2 separate regions of the Homo sapiens genome follow, and region 2 is reported to be linked to region 1. The links are microRNA targets in miRTarBase. Many come from high-throughput screens and were not tested one by one. Region 1 holds a microRNA gene; the other region holds the end of a gene's coding sequence.
The links. The annotated mature microRNA hsa-miR-548ah-5p reads AAAAGUGAUUGCAGUGUUUG and lies in region 1 at 4,193-4,212, opposite strand. An mRNA with a match to its seed (bases 2 to 7 or 8) in the 3' UTR can be bound and repressed. Matches are read on the target gene's strand: a 7mer-m8 pairs with bases 2 to 8, a 7mer-A1 pairs with bases 2 to 7 and ends in A, and an 8mer does both.

Region 2: miRTarBase lists ZNF714 as a target of hsa-miR-548ah-5p. Seed matches in the 3' UTR shown: 7mer-m8 at 2,278-2,284.

What each region holds. Positions count from the first base shown.
Region 1 is chr4:76,572,234-76,579,772 of GRCh38, reverse strand. It overlaps MIR548AH (microRNA 548ah), which reads right to left and starts at 4,222; the gene lies at 4,147-4,222. The region is part of intron 2 of SHROOM3 (shroom family member 3); the gene reads right to left. It overlaps MIR4450 (microRNA 4450), which reads right to left and starts at 6,205; the gene lies at 6,141-6,205.
Region 2 is chr19:21,116,685-21,124,358 of GRCh38, reverse strand. It overlaps ZNF714 (zinc finger protein 714), which reads right to left. Exons shown (of 5, transcript NM_182515.4): 5 at 1-7,552. The coding sequence ends at 6,027. It also overlaps the pseudogene VN1R81P. Among named protein-coding and RNA genes, the nearest start is that of ZNF431, 22 kb to the left of the region's middle.

The DNA of each region.
Region 1 (7,539 bases):
AGTGTTTGTGTTACAAGGCTGGCAAACTCAAATGCTGACTAGACCAGGCAGGTGGAGTAAATGAGCAAAGCAACAGGTGTAGGATCACAGGAAACAGTGGGGCCCCAAGGCAAACTGGAGAGGGAATGCTTCATTAGACGTGGAAGCATGCAGCTCCAGCCCACTGCTGCCAGATCGTCTGACTTCTCCACAAGCCAGAAATCCAGATTATGCAAAACTTCCAGATTTTTAATGTGGATTAAACAAACATCTGTAGACCAAGTACTTGTGTAAGTTTGTTTGTTTGTTTGTTTATTATTATTTTTGAGACAGAGTCTCACTCTGTTGCCCAGGCTGGAGTGCAGTGGCACGATCTCGGCTCACTGCAAGCTCAGTCTCCCGGGTTCACACCATTCTCCTGCCTCAGCCTCCCGAGTAGCTGGGACTACAGGCGCCTGCCACCACGCCCAGCTAATGTTTTGCATTTTTAGTAGAGACAGGGTTTCACCGTGTTAGCCAGGATGGTCTCGATTTCTTGACCTCGTGATCTGCCCGCCTTGGCCTCCCAAAGTGCTGGGATTACAGGCGTGAGCCACCACGCCCAGCCTGTTTATTTATTTTTTGAGACACTCTGTCGCCCAGGCTGGAGAGCAGTGGCACAACCTCGACTCATGCATCCTTGACCTCCCGGGCTCAAGCGATCCTCCCACCTCAACTTCCTGAGTAGCTGGGACCATAGGCAAGCACCACCACACCCAGCTAATTTTTTTTTTAAATTTTTTAAAATTTTTTGTAAAGTCAGGGTCTCATTATGTTGCCAGGGCTGGTCTCAAACTCCCAGATTGCTGGGATTACAGGCATGAGCCGCCATGCCCAGCCAGATGTCATTTTTAAATTCGCACAAAAAACTTTATTAAATTCAGTGAGGCTTATTAAAAATAAAATCAACTTGCTTTAATAGTGGATTTGGTATGGGTGGGTCTTGTGATCCTTATCAAATCATTTAAAAATGTTTATTAAAGTGTAACATACACAGAATGGATAAAGTGTACTAATCTATGTAAAGGGTAAAAATGATATAGAACATTTCTAACACCCACAAAAGGTTCCATCAAGACCTTTCCAGCTTATTCCAGACTTTCCAGCCCACCTTGGGTCTACATCATAAATGAGCTTTGCCTATTGTTGTCTCGTTCACATCTTAGCCATGAGAAACTGATAACAGATATAGTTGCATCAAGTCTGAAAGAAATAAAACTGTGTTCAAATAAGTAAGGTACAACCAAAAAGAATGATGGTAAACTCAACAACCCCATGCAGTTCACAAAGTTAGCCAAGAGCTCTGGTGATTACTGCTTTCACACACCTCTTCTTTCTGATAACTACCATCTCCTGTGCGGTTACCATATGCCAAGTACTTGCTTGTCACCCTGCTTCTGCATAGAGGATCTCATTTAAGTACCACAAAAACCCCCTGAGATACAAATTTAGATAAAGTTTCCTCCAACCGTATAGCTAAAGGAAACTGAGTTTGTAATAGGTTATGCAGCTAGATTCACACAGCCAATAAGTGAAAAGTCCAGATTCAAAGTCAGGGCTACTCCAAAGTTCAAGTACTTTTCCATTGCACTCCATAGCCTCCCCATAAAATTAGGGGTGTGTTTTCTTAGCTCTTCCACAAAACTATGATAACCTTCTTTTCTTAACCAGGAGCATAATAAACCTTATTTAATTTAGAATCTAAATTCTGAATGATTTACATTATAAGGATTGGTGGAGGTGTGGGTTATTAAAAGATGACATTACCTAGGTACTTAAAAAAAAACAATGAACACAGTAAGAAGAAGAGAGAGAAAATATATCACTATCTTTTATTAACATAGATATTATCTACCTTTATTTACCTAAACCAATTTCCTGGGGCTTATGGAAACATTGTCTTATATGAATATAGTTTTGAGACAGATGGCAGAATTTGATGTTTAAAGATTCTTCTCCCTCTCAGAAAATGTATGCAGCATGGAAATGGAGTTAGAACAGTGGTGGCTGCAGAATTTCTTATAAGAGGGGCTAAATGTTAGCAACTGGATTGTGAAGGAGTTATAGGGGACTTGTCTTGAACCTGTGTTACGCATAATAAGTTCAGATTTTACCTAGACTGGAGCATTTTTCTAAAGATTCTTTAATTCATCCTTTAACAAGATTGATAAACGTGAATTGTTATATTAAAGAATATTATTTTATTGGGTAGACAAATAATACAGGAGGCAGAGGTATTGGTCTACAGCCCCACCATCTTCCAATACCAGTCCCTGTCCTTTATTGCTGCCTCTAGGGAGGCTGGAACCATTCACCTGATGCCAAATGATTGGAAGAACAGGGCAATGAAGGGACTTAGAATAATTCCTAGTTAACCAATGTACTGCTGACAACAATACACAGTAAAGAGTAAACAATCAGACCTTCCCCAGCACCTCGTCCCTTTGGTGGATGGGGAAATTTGATTTGCCCATATTTTTAATGTAGAAAGATATAGACCACTAGGAATTAATTTACACAGAGGGCTTTTTAGCCTGTGATATGCGAAAATTTCAAGTATAGATTATCTTTTATCTCAACAGACACACTGACACCGATTACCCTTTTGGAACGCTAGAGTCAGATCTATTTGACCAGCTCCTTCTTATACTTTAGGTAGATCAGAAATTCAATTAAGGTTTGGTGAAATACTCATGTTTACCAGGAGCATTTGTTCCAGTATTCAGTTCTGAACCCTAACCTCCAGGATTACGTTCAATGAATAATCAGCTGAGTTGGCCATGTCACCATTCACCAAATCAATACCTATTGCTTAAACTGTTTTTAACCCAGTTTTTATTTTTGCTTTAATCACCAAAGTCCTTTATTTTTATTTTTAAAAATTTAATTTAAAAATTAAAAATATTTATAACAAAATTTACCATCTTACCCATTTTTTATTTTAACATTTTAATTTTTAATTTTTGTGGTTATAAAGTAGGTGTATACATTTATGGGGTACGTGAGATGTTTTGATACAGGCATGCAACACATAATAATCACATCATGAAGAATGGGGTATCCATCTCCTCAAGCCATTATCTTTTGTGTTACAAACTACCCAACTACACGATTTTAGTTATTTTTAAATGTACAATTACATTATTATGGATTATAGTCACCTTGTTGTGCTATCAAAGAGTAGGTATTAGTCATCCTACCTTTTTGTATGCATTAACCATCCCTACCTCCCCACCAGCCTCCTACTACCCTTCCCAGCCTCTGTAACCATCCTTCTACTCTCTGTGTCCATGAGTTCCATTGTTTTGATTTTTAGATCCCACAAACAAGTGAGAATATGCAAAGTTTGTCTTTCTGTGCCTGGCTCAATTCACTTAACATAGTGATCTCCAGTTTGATCTATGTTGTTGCAAATGGCAGGATCTCATTTTTTTAAATGGCTGAATAATATTCCATTGTGTGTAAGTACCACATTTTCTTTATCCATTCATCTGTTGATGGACACTTAAGTTGCTTCCAAATCTTAGCTATTGTAAAGAATGTTGCAACAAACACAGGAGTCCAGATACCTCTTAGAGGTACTGATTTCCTTTCTTTGGGGTATATACCCCATAGTGGGATTGCTGGATCGTATGGTAGCTTTCTTTTTAGGTTTTTGAGAAACCTTGAACTGTTCTCCGTAGTGGTTGTACTAATTTGCATTCCTACCAACACTGTACGAGGGTTCCCTTTTCTCCACATCCTCACTAGGATTTGTTACTGCCTGTCTTTTGGATATAAGCCATTTTAACGGGGGTGGGATGATATAATATCTCATTGTAGTTTAGATTTGCGTTTCTCTAATAATCAATGATGTTGAGCACATTTTCATATATCTGTTTGCCATTTATATGTCTTCTTTTGAGAAGTTTAACAATATTGATTCTTGCAATTTGTGAACATGGAATATCTTTCCATTTTTTGTATCTTCTTCAACTCCTTTCATCAGTGTATTATATTAATAGTTTTTATTATAGAGATCTTTCACTTATTTGGTTAATTCCTGGGTATTTAATTTTATTTGTGGCTATTGTAAATGGGATTACTTTTTAAATTTCTTGTTCAGATTGTTCACTGTTGGCATATATTGGGCTGGTGCAAAAGTAACTGCAGTTTTTGTCATTACTTTTATTGGCAAACACTGCAATCACTTTTGCACCAACCTAATAGAAATGCTGCTGATTTTGGTATGTTGATTTTGTATCCTGTGACTTGACTGAATTTGTTTATCAATTCTGCTAGTTTTTTTGGTGGAGTCTTTAGGTTTTTCCAAATATAAGATCATCTTATCTGCAAATAAAAATAATTTGCTTTCTTCCTTTTCAGTTTGGATGCCTTTTCTTTCTCTTGTCTAATTGCTCTAGCTAGGACTTCCAGTACTATGTTGAATACCAGTAGTGAAAGTGGGTAGCCTTGTTGTGCTTCAGATCTTAGAGGAAAGGCTTTCAATTTTTTTCCCATTCAGTGTGATACTAGTTGTGGGTCTGTCATCTATGGCTTTTATTATGTTGAAGTATGTTTCTCCTATACCCAGTTTTTTGAAGGACTTTTATCATGAAGGGATGTTTATCATGAAAGGATCAAATGCTTTTTCAGCTTCACTTGAAATGATCATCTGGTTTTGTTCTTCATTCTATTGAGAAGATATATAGTATTGATTGATTTATATATGTTGAGCCATCCTTGCATCCCAGAGATAAATCCCGCTTGGTTGTGATGAATGATCTTGTTGGTGTACTATTGAATTTGGTTTGCTGGTATACCCGTTTTTTAAGGGTGCACTTCAGTGGCATTAAGTATATTCCCATTTTTGTAGATCCAATGTCCAGAACTCTTTTCATCTCGCAGAACTGAAACTCTGTACCTACTCAACAAAACTCCCTAATCTCCCCTCCCCCAACCTGTGGCAACTGCCATTCTACATTTTTTGTGTATGAATTTGACTACCCTGGGTACCTTATACAAGTGGAATCATTTACAGTATTTGTCTTTTTGTGACTGGCTTATTTCACTTAGCATAATGTCCTTAGGGTTCATCCATGTTGTAGCATATATCAGAATTTCCTTTGCTTTTAAGGCTATACATTTCTTTTTTTAATCACAAAATGATTTGAGTTTATGTAGCTAATCAATCAATTAGATTAAGAGGGAGTATCCGGTCTGTCTAATAAGAGTTTAGGCATGAAAAATGGTAAGAAAGGCGTTGGTAGAGAGGGAGAGAGAGAATTTGCTGAAATATTTAATGCCATGGTTCTTTAGGGTGCATCAGAATCATGGGGAAGACTTGGTAAATCAGATTGCTAGGCTCAAACTCCAGAGTTCCCAATTCATTAGGCTTAGAGCAGGGCCTGGGAATTTGTATTTTCCAGAAGTTCCTGGGCATGATCACACTTTTGACAACCATTGTAACCTATCCAGGGTGAGGCCTAGAGGATTCTAATTGCCAAAATTTTCCCATCGTGCAAAGAAGATACCCCTCCCAACTAAGACAAGAAGCTTGAAGTTATAGAAGTAGGGAAGCACAGAGAAGAGTGAGAAATAGTGAGAAAACCCAGCCCTCAAGATCCCAGCAACTTGTGGAAATGAGGGAAAAGATGGTGGCAAGTCAAGCTGTGAGGACCAAGTTCTGATTTCTCTTCTAGCCTCAGGGAGGAGAGGGAAAGTGTGTGAGCTAAGTGAGGAGAATGTCAAAGGGCTCAGGGAACCCTGGCTCCACTGCACCATTTGAGACCCTAGGAGAAGGTCACTGGAGTAGGTCTGGCCTGGCTCAATTTCGAGGTCTCTAGAGGTCCAGACAGAAGGAAGAATCTCAGACATCAGACGGCAACCAGCAGACTTGCAAGGAGGCAACTATGGTGGGGTGAGATGATCCTAGGATGGGCCCTGGGTCAGGAGTTGCTGGGATGAGAGTTTGGCAGATGCTAAGTTGTCTGAAGCTAAGGGGAGCTGAGCAGAGACTGAATCTGTAAGTGTGGGGTTGCCAGCAATCCCAGGGGCATTGCCCAGGCCATGGCTGACCATGGATTTACCAGCTGCAGGATTCAGCGTTGGAGGCCAGCAGTGGCTGGGAAGGCTATGGACAGAGCCAAGGGACCAGGGGAGATGGTGCCAAAGACCTGCGCTCACCACTTCTCCAAATCCCCAGACACTGTTTAGCAAGACAGCTGGGCAGTGGAGAAAAAAGATGACATCTGAGCAAGGGAGGATTTTATTTCAGACTGAGCCCCTTAAGGGACTATTCAAATTGATTGGACCAGGTGAGCTTTTAACTTGGCCAGGAATAAAAATTATTATTATTATTATTATTATTATTATTATTATTATTATTATTATTGCCAACCAGCAGAAGTGGGTTTGTAAGGAAGACAAGGAACCTACATTTTTTTCTATACATCTAAATTGTCATGTGACTAGGTTTGGTAGATAAAATTGGGTACCTACTTTGACTAAAATAAATTCAATGATTATCAGAAATTCAAATTTAATAGGACATCTGTATTTTTAATTGTTAAATCTGGCCACCTTACCTTGTTGTGCCTGTTGAGGGCAAGTGACAGATCTAAATCTCAATTTTATTGAGTTTCAAGCTTGTGTTCATATTTCTTTCTTTCTTTTTTCTTTTTTATTTTTTTTTTGAGACAGTGTCTAGCTCTGTCACCCAGGCTGGAGTGCAGTGGTGCAATCTCAGCTCACTGCAACCTCTCCTCTTGGGTTCAAGCAATTCTCCTGCCTCAGCCTCCCAAGCAGCTGGGACTACAGGCGTGTGCTACCACACCTGGCTAATCTTTTGTATTTTTAGTAGAGACAGGGTTTAACCGTGTTGACCAGGCTGGTCTCGAACTCCTGACCTCAAGTGATCCACCTGCTTTGGCCTCCCAAAGCGCTGGGATTACAGGCTTGAGCCACTGAACCCAGCCTGTGTTCATATTTCATAAGCAGTTGGGTAGCAGAGAAAACTAGTTCAGAATAAATCTCTTCCTACCCACAAACCATAAAGGGGCAAACCCGTACACTGTTATACTGCTAGAGCTGCCCCTAAAACATGCCAATCACTTTTTTCCAGTATATTCAAGATGCAGATATTTACATTTGAACGATCACAATATCCCTAGAAAACAACTCCCAAAATTATGAAATGAGTCTTTAAACTGTATATACTATTAGGATATCTGACACATCCTCTGTCCCTCACCTCCCTGGCCCACCATCATTGACCACTAAGGTTTCCTACTGACTGCACTGGGAATAGTCCTCAGGGGAAGTGTCAGTCACACAGGGAGACCTCAGGATGCCCCAGAACATGCAGGCTGCAGTGGCCAAGGTCAGCCTTTATTAAGATCACTTTCTGCCCATGACCTGAAGGTCCTGTCACCTATCACGGTATACAGTTTGTCACTGAGATTACACCATTGGGAACTCACTCCTTTAGGGTAAGATGTTGACAACCTGCAAAATTGCCCTTTAAAATATGAATAGTAACTT
Region 2 (7,674 bases), not on the chromosome of region 1:
AACAGCATGTTCAAAATATTATGTTCTACAGAAAAAGTACACATTTTTATCTGTCAAGAGAAAATATTTTCAAAATGTTATAGAATAAGAATGTGTCAAATACTGTATCTTTGTGGTAATCTTGGCTAAATAGTATCAAAAATATGTATTTTGGGGCTATTATTGTCATTTGTCAGTCATAACCATAGGAACTCTGATATTTAACAGCATGGTTTGGACCCAGCACATTGCATGGGAGAAGCCAATGTACTTTAGGATTTTTACTTTAAGCTTGGGCCACCTGGAGTTTCTGGTACTGGTGGTAATGGTATGAAAGCCACTAAAGGGGCAGGTGTTGCTTATGGTCCCATGACTGGCCAGTCTGTGAACACAGTAAACTAGTTTGCATGCAAAATAACAGAATGTTTTAATCCAAAACTTGTCATGATCTCCAAATGTTTTTCAGAGAAAATGACCCAGGAGTTGGCTACAGCTTGGTGACTAAAAATAAAAACCGTAGACTAAACTTCTCCCACTAAAAGAAAAAATATAAAAAATAAGAGAAATTTCTCCAAATTGTAAAATCAATATAGAAAAGACATATTTTTCTAAATTTTAAATTCAGAGGTCATTTTATTATTTTGCAATCTTTACCACCACACTTAAAAGATTCTGCACGGAAATGTAAATTGTGCTGTAATTATATCATAGAAAATTAAATTCGTGGCCGGGCACTGTGGCTCATGCCTGTAATCCCACCACTTTGGGAGGTCGAGGCGGGCGGATCACGAGGTCAGGAGATTGAGACCATCCTGGCTAACATGGTGAAATCCCGTCTCTACTAAAAATACAAAAAAATTAGACGGGTGCGGTAGCGGGCGCCTGTAGTCCCAGCTACTCGGGAGGCTGAGGCGGGAGAATGGCGTGAACCCGGAAGGCGGAGCTTGCAGTGAGCCAAGATCACACCACTGTACTCTAGCCTGGGAGACAGAGCAAGACTCTGTCTCTAAAAAATAAAAAGTAAAAATAAAAAAAGAAAATTAAATTCGTTTACTATTAACTCTCTTAAAAATTTAATTTCCATATTTTCAAGCAAGTTTTATATTTGCCACACTTTGTATAAGAATCTAATAAGATTTTTCTTTTAAAAACAAAGAAATGCAATGCTAATTTAATCCTCTTGCCTGTGGACAGTGTGCGCCTTTAATCTTTTTTTTTTTTTTTTTTTGAGACAGAGTTTTGCTCTTGTCCAGGCTGGAGTGCAATGGCGCAATTTCGGCTCACTGCAACCTCTGCCTCCTGGGTTCAAGCGATTCTCCTGCATCAGCCTCCCGAGTAGCTGGGATTACAGGCATGCGCCACAACATGTGGCTAATTTTGTATTTGTAGTAGACACGGGGTTTCACCATGTTGGTCAGGCTGGTCTCGAACTCCTGAGCTCAAGTGATCCACTTGCCTCGGCCTCTCAAAGTGCTGGGATTAGAGGCGTGAGCCACCACACCTGGCTTTTATCTTAATTAACTAATCTGAATGTTATATTGATAAGCGAACTCACCAGTTAAAATCCATTTTTAAGTGCACTAAAAATAGAATTTTGTCATCAAAATCTACAAAATACCAGGCGAAATGAAATGGCGTGAAGAGAACAGTCAGAAAACTGTAGCTATAACTCAGAAAAAGAAGGGCTGTGATGCATACATAGTTGGAAAATACATACGAGAAACAAATCTGAAGAGAAGTAGAAAATAAAAGAAGCAGAATTTATTTTTTTTTTTATGAGTCTCATTCTGTCACCCAGGCTGTAGTGCAATGGCACAATCTCGGCTCACCACAATCTTCGCCTCCTGGGTTCAAGCAATTCTTCTGCCTCAGCCTCCTGAGTAGCTGGGCTACAGGTGGATGCCACCACAATCAGCTAATTTTTGTAGTTTATTAGTAGAGACCGGGTTTCACCAGGCTGGTCTGAAACTCCTAACCTCAGGTGATCCATCTGCCTCGGCCAGAATTTCTCTTTAAATTCAGCAAGATTCAGTTTTATAGTCTGGAAAAAATGTCCACTCCATATGAAGAATCAATCTTATTTCTTCACCACTGATATCTTTCATTTCTGACTTGAAATTACAAACTAACTCCAGCAGGAATATTTGTGAATTATTATGGAGCATCGATTACACAGTAAGAACTGTAATGTATGTTTGCTACATTTATATATAAAAACATCCTCATGACTTATGAAGCCCCCCAGTACTTACCTGAACAAATTGACTCAATAAATAAATATACTTATGTCAATTATAAAAAGTGAAAGGAACAATCACTAAAGAAAAGAAAACTTATATATTGTTCTCCCCTTAAAAGAACAAAATGGAGTGCTCTCACTAAATAAAATGTAACTTAATACACTACTTTTGGAATTACATCTAAAAATTATTTTGTGTGCACTAAATTTCATAAAAATTCTTATAATCACAGACCAGCTCATATAATGAATACTTCCTAAACCATAAAACAAAAAAAATGTAAGAAACAAAAAAAGTATGGGTCTAGCATGAGTACCAGGCAAGTATATACAGAGAATTTGCATGAAAAGGTTCAGAACTGTAAGTCATGGATTGTACAGTAATAAATTCAATACAAAGCACAAAGTATACATTTGCTTTCAGCATTTTTTAAGGTTTTTAGTTTTATAGTAGCCACCTTATTAAAATGATTTTTATTCCCATATTGTTCTTTTCTGAAAATAGGTACAAACTCATACTCACACACACACACTTATTCCATAATTTTCTTACACCTAAAGTTTGTCTTTAGACTAATACATATTTAACTCTATGTGAATCAAAAAGTCTGCATGTTTGCAGGCAGACAGGCCACATGTTCAAAGAAAAATATATAACAATTTGGAAAAAATATTAATAGTTTAGAAATGAATTTTATTTATACTCATATATAATTTGTATTATGACCATAAAAATAACTCTATAGTAAATAACAATTGTACATTTTAAAATTTATAAAAAGTGGCCGGGCACGGTGGCTCATGCCTGTAATCCCAGCACTTTGGGAGGTCAAGGCAGGCAGATCATGAGGTCAGGAGATCGAGACCAGATCACGAGGTCAGGAGATTGAGACCATCCTGGCTAACATGGTGAAACCCCATCTCTACTAAAAATACAAAAAATTAGCCGGGCATGGTGGTGGGCGCCTGTAGTCCTAGCTGCTTGGGAGGCTGAGGCAGGAAAATGGCGTGAACCCGGGAAGTGGAGCTTGCAGTGAGCCGAGATTGCACACTCCAGCCTGGGCGACAGAGCGAGACTCCGTCTCAACAACAACAAGAACAACAACAACAAAAAATTTTTAAAAAGTGTAGGTTTGGATTGTTTGTAAAACAAAGGAGAAATGCTATGGGTGAAGGATGCCTCACTTAACCCTGATGCTACTATTATATATTGTATTCCTGTACTAAAATATGCCATATAAGTGCATAAATATATACTCATATTATGTACCCACCAAAATTAAATTTAAATGATTAAAAACAAAATAAAAATTTAACCTACAGAAACAATATTCTTTAACTTATTTGCGGTTTAAAGCCACTGGCAAAAAAAATTACTAGAGATGTTAATCCATTATGTTACTAAATAGTATATCGTTACCATCTTTTACCTATACCCTTCAGTAAGGTGGAACAGGGTAAAGTTTGTGGTATAATAATGCTTCATTGAATGCACAATAGTATTTAACATGTTAAAAATGTTAAACTATTAACTTCACACAATCTAAAATTTTAAAAATGTACTGCATCTTATATAAAAGTACAATTAGTATGATAAACTAAATTTTAAATAAAATTAAATGTTTTTTCATAATGCAGAATATTACTCTGAACACCAACCTCATGCACCACTCAATATTATAAGTTAACCCCAAAGAACCTCTCCACTTACATTTTCATTATGCATCTTACATTCTAATGTTTTTACTTTTCAATAGAAAAGATCACAAATAATGCCCACCTAATAAAAAAGAATCTCTTGCCAGGAGCAGTGGCTCATGCCTGTGTAATCCCAGCACCTTTGGAGGCCAAGGTGGGTGGATCACAAGGTGAGGAGTTTGAGACCAGCCTGGCCAACATGATGAAATCCTGTCTGTACTAGAAACATAAAAATTAGCTGGGCGTGGTGATATGCGCCTGTAATCCCAGCTACTCAGGAGGCTGAGGGAGGAGAATCGCTTGAAACTGGAAATTGAAGGTTGCAGTGAGCCGAGATCATGCCACTGTGCTCCAGCCTGGACGAAAGAGCAAAACTCCATCTCAAAAAAACAGAACAAAACAAAGAAAGAATCTTTCATATCTTTGATACAGCAATAATTGATCCCATGCTTTCACATGTGAATCCAATAGGAATGAAGAAACGGCAGGAATTTCAGAGTTGAATGACATCATTATTCACTTTTCAAAAAATCTGTAATATTTTTCAAGAAATAAAGTATACTTTGAATGTAATTATAACTGCAAAAAACCTTCTGATCCTCTTAAAGTTATATACAAATAATTTTTCTACCAACTTTAATTTTCTATACTCAGCCCTCTGATTTAGTATATCTGATGTTGTCAGTGCCTTATGTATTTCTACCATAAATTCTGATATTTACACAGACTTACTTATGGATTAAATTTTTTTTAACTTTTACTGCATCTGCAAAAATATATTCTAGTATGAACTCTGTTTTCTAAGCTGTAGTTTTTGAAAAAGTGTTTTTCCAAATTTACTACATTTGCATGATTTTTCTTCAATATAAATTCCCTGATATTGAACAAAGTGTGAAAGTGCTTCAGAGTTTTTCCTCTACAAAAAATGTCTACAATAAGATCTGTGATACAAGTAAAGGCACTACTACCCACTTTATATTTGTAACATTCATCTTCAAAATAAATATTCTTCACTGTAAAGTTCATATTTTCTTTTTTTTTTACTTTTTAGATGGAGTCTTGCTCTGTGGCCCAGGCTAGAGTGCAATCTCAGCTCACTGCAACCTCTCCCTCCCCAAGTTCAAGTGATTCTCCTGCCTCAGCCTCTTGAGTAGCTGGGATTACAGGCACCACCACCGCAACCGGCTAATTGTTGTATTTTTAGTAGAGATGGGGTTTCACCATCTTGGATAGGCTGGTCTCAAACTCCTGACCTCATGATCCACCTGCCTTGGCCTACCAAAGTGCTGGGATTATAGGCCTGAGCCACCACGCCTGGTCAAAAGCTTGTATTTTCTGAAAGGTCTTTTGACAGTAATTGTACTTATAATGCTTTTATTAAGTATGAACTATCTGGTGTTGAGATATGAACATATATTAATGGCTTTTTCAGTCTTTATATTTGTATAATTTATCTCAAGTACAAATGCTTTCCTGTGCAATAAGGTGTGAGCACTGGTTAAGTTTTGCCACATTGTTCACACATGTAGGTGTTTTCTCCAGTATGAATTATCTTACCTACAATCAAGTGTGACAACCATTTAAAGGCTTTGTCTCATTCTTCAGATTTCTAAGATTTCTCACCAGTATAATTTCTTTTATGGTTAGAAAAGTTTGAGGTGTTGTCAAAAGCATTGCCAGATCTTTCTGGTTTGCAGAGTTTCTTTCCAGTATGAATTATGTTATGTCTGTTAAGAATTGAGGGCTTGTTAAAGGCTTTGCCATGTTTTTCACCCTCGTAGGGTTTCTGTACAGTATGAATTTTTAATGCCTAGTAAGAGTTGAAGACTGGTTAAAGGCTTTGCCATATTCTTCACATTTGTAGAATTTCTCTCCAGTATAAATTATTTTCTTAAAAAGGTTCGAGGACTGGTTGAAAGCACTGGCACATTCTTCACAATTGTAGGGTTTCGTTCCAGTATGAATTTTCTTTTCTTTTTTTTTTTTTTTTTGAGACAGAGTCTTGCCTTGTGGCCCAGGCTGGAGTAGAATGGCGCGATCTTGGCTCACTGCAACCTCTGCCTCCCAGGTTCAAATGATTCTCCTGCCTCTGCCTCCCAAGTAGCTGGGATTACAGGCGCCTGCCACCACACCCAGCAAATTTTTGTATTTTTAGTAGAGATGGGGTTTTACCATGTTGGCCAGGCTGGTCTTGAACTCCTGACCTCGCGATCTGCTCACCTAGTCCTCTCAAAGTGTTGGGATTACAGGCATGAGCCACCATGCCCTGCTGAATTTTCCTATGTTTAGTAAGAGTTGAGGATTGGTTAAAGGCTTTACCACATTCTTCACATTTGTAAGATTTCTCTCCAGTATGAATTATGTTATGTTTAGTAAGGTTTGAGGATCGGTTGAAAGCTTTGCCACATTCTTCACATTTGTAGGGTTTCTCTCCAGTGTGAATTCTCTTATGTGTAGTAAGGTTTGAGGATCGGTTAAAAGCTTTGCCACATTCTTCACATTTGTAGAGTTTCTCTCCAGTATGAATTATCTTATGTTTGGTAAGGTTTGAGGATTGGTTAAAAGCTTTGCCACATTCTTCACATTTGTAAGGTTTCTCTCCAGTATGAATTATCTTATGTATAGTAAGTTTTGAGGAGTGGTTAAAGGCTTTGCCACATTCTTCACATTTGTAGGGTTTCTCTCCAGTATGAATCATCTTATGTGTAGTAAGGTGTGAAGACACATTAAAGGCTTTGCCACATTCTTCACATTTGTAGGGTTTCTCTCCAGTATGAATTCTTTTATGTTTTGTAAGGGTTGAAGACCAGTTAAAGCCTTTGCCACATTGTTCACATTTGTAAGATTTCTCTCCAGAATGAATTATCTTATGTTTAGTAAGGTATGAGAATCGGTTAAAAGCTTTGTCACATTCTTCACATTTGTAGGGTTTTTCTTTAACATGAATGAACTTATGTGTAGTAAGGGCTGAAGGGTGGTTAAAAGCTTTACCACATTCTTCACATTTGAAGGGCTTCTCTCCAGTATGAATTACCTTATGTGTAGTAAGGTGTGAAGAATGGTAGAAGGCTTTGCCACATTCTTCACATCTGTAGGGTTTCTCTCCAGTATGAATCATCTTATGTGTAGTAAGGGTTGAGGAGTGCTTAAAAGCTTTGCCACATTCTTCACATTTGAAGGGTTTCTCTCCAGTATGAACTCTCTTGTGTCTAGTAAGGGTTGAGAACCGCTTAAACACTTTGTCACATTCTTCACATTGGTAAGAATTCTCTCTAATATGAATTCTTTTATGTTGATGTAGGTGTAAAAGCATGCAAAATGATTCATCACATTTTTTACATTTGAAAGGTTTCTCTCCAGTATGTCTTGTCTTGTGTCTATTTGAATTGAAAATTTTATGAAAGACTTTTATATATTTATCACATGGAAATATTTTGCTCTGGGTAGTTGTCAAACACTGGTTTAGTTCATTATAACCTTTTTTGTACACCTTACACTCAACCACATTTGCGGAGCCTTTTCTTAACTGTAAATTCTCATGTTCACATTTGCCATGTCTTCTCAGTATCACTTGTTGAAAAGAATCTTTTATGTCTTGCTCTGGCCAAAGGTCTCTGGTAAAAGAAGAACACATAGCTGAAAGAAATACAAACAACAAATTATTCAACTTACTAGACTCTGATAAACATACTTTACAAATCTAACCTATATTATACAAACTACATAAGCAAGATGCCATAATAAAATACCACAGGCCC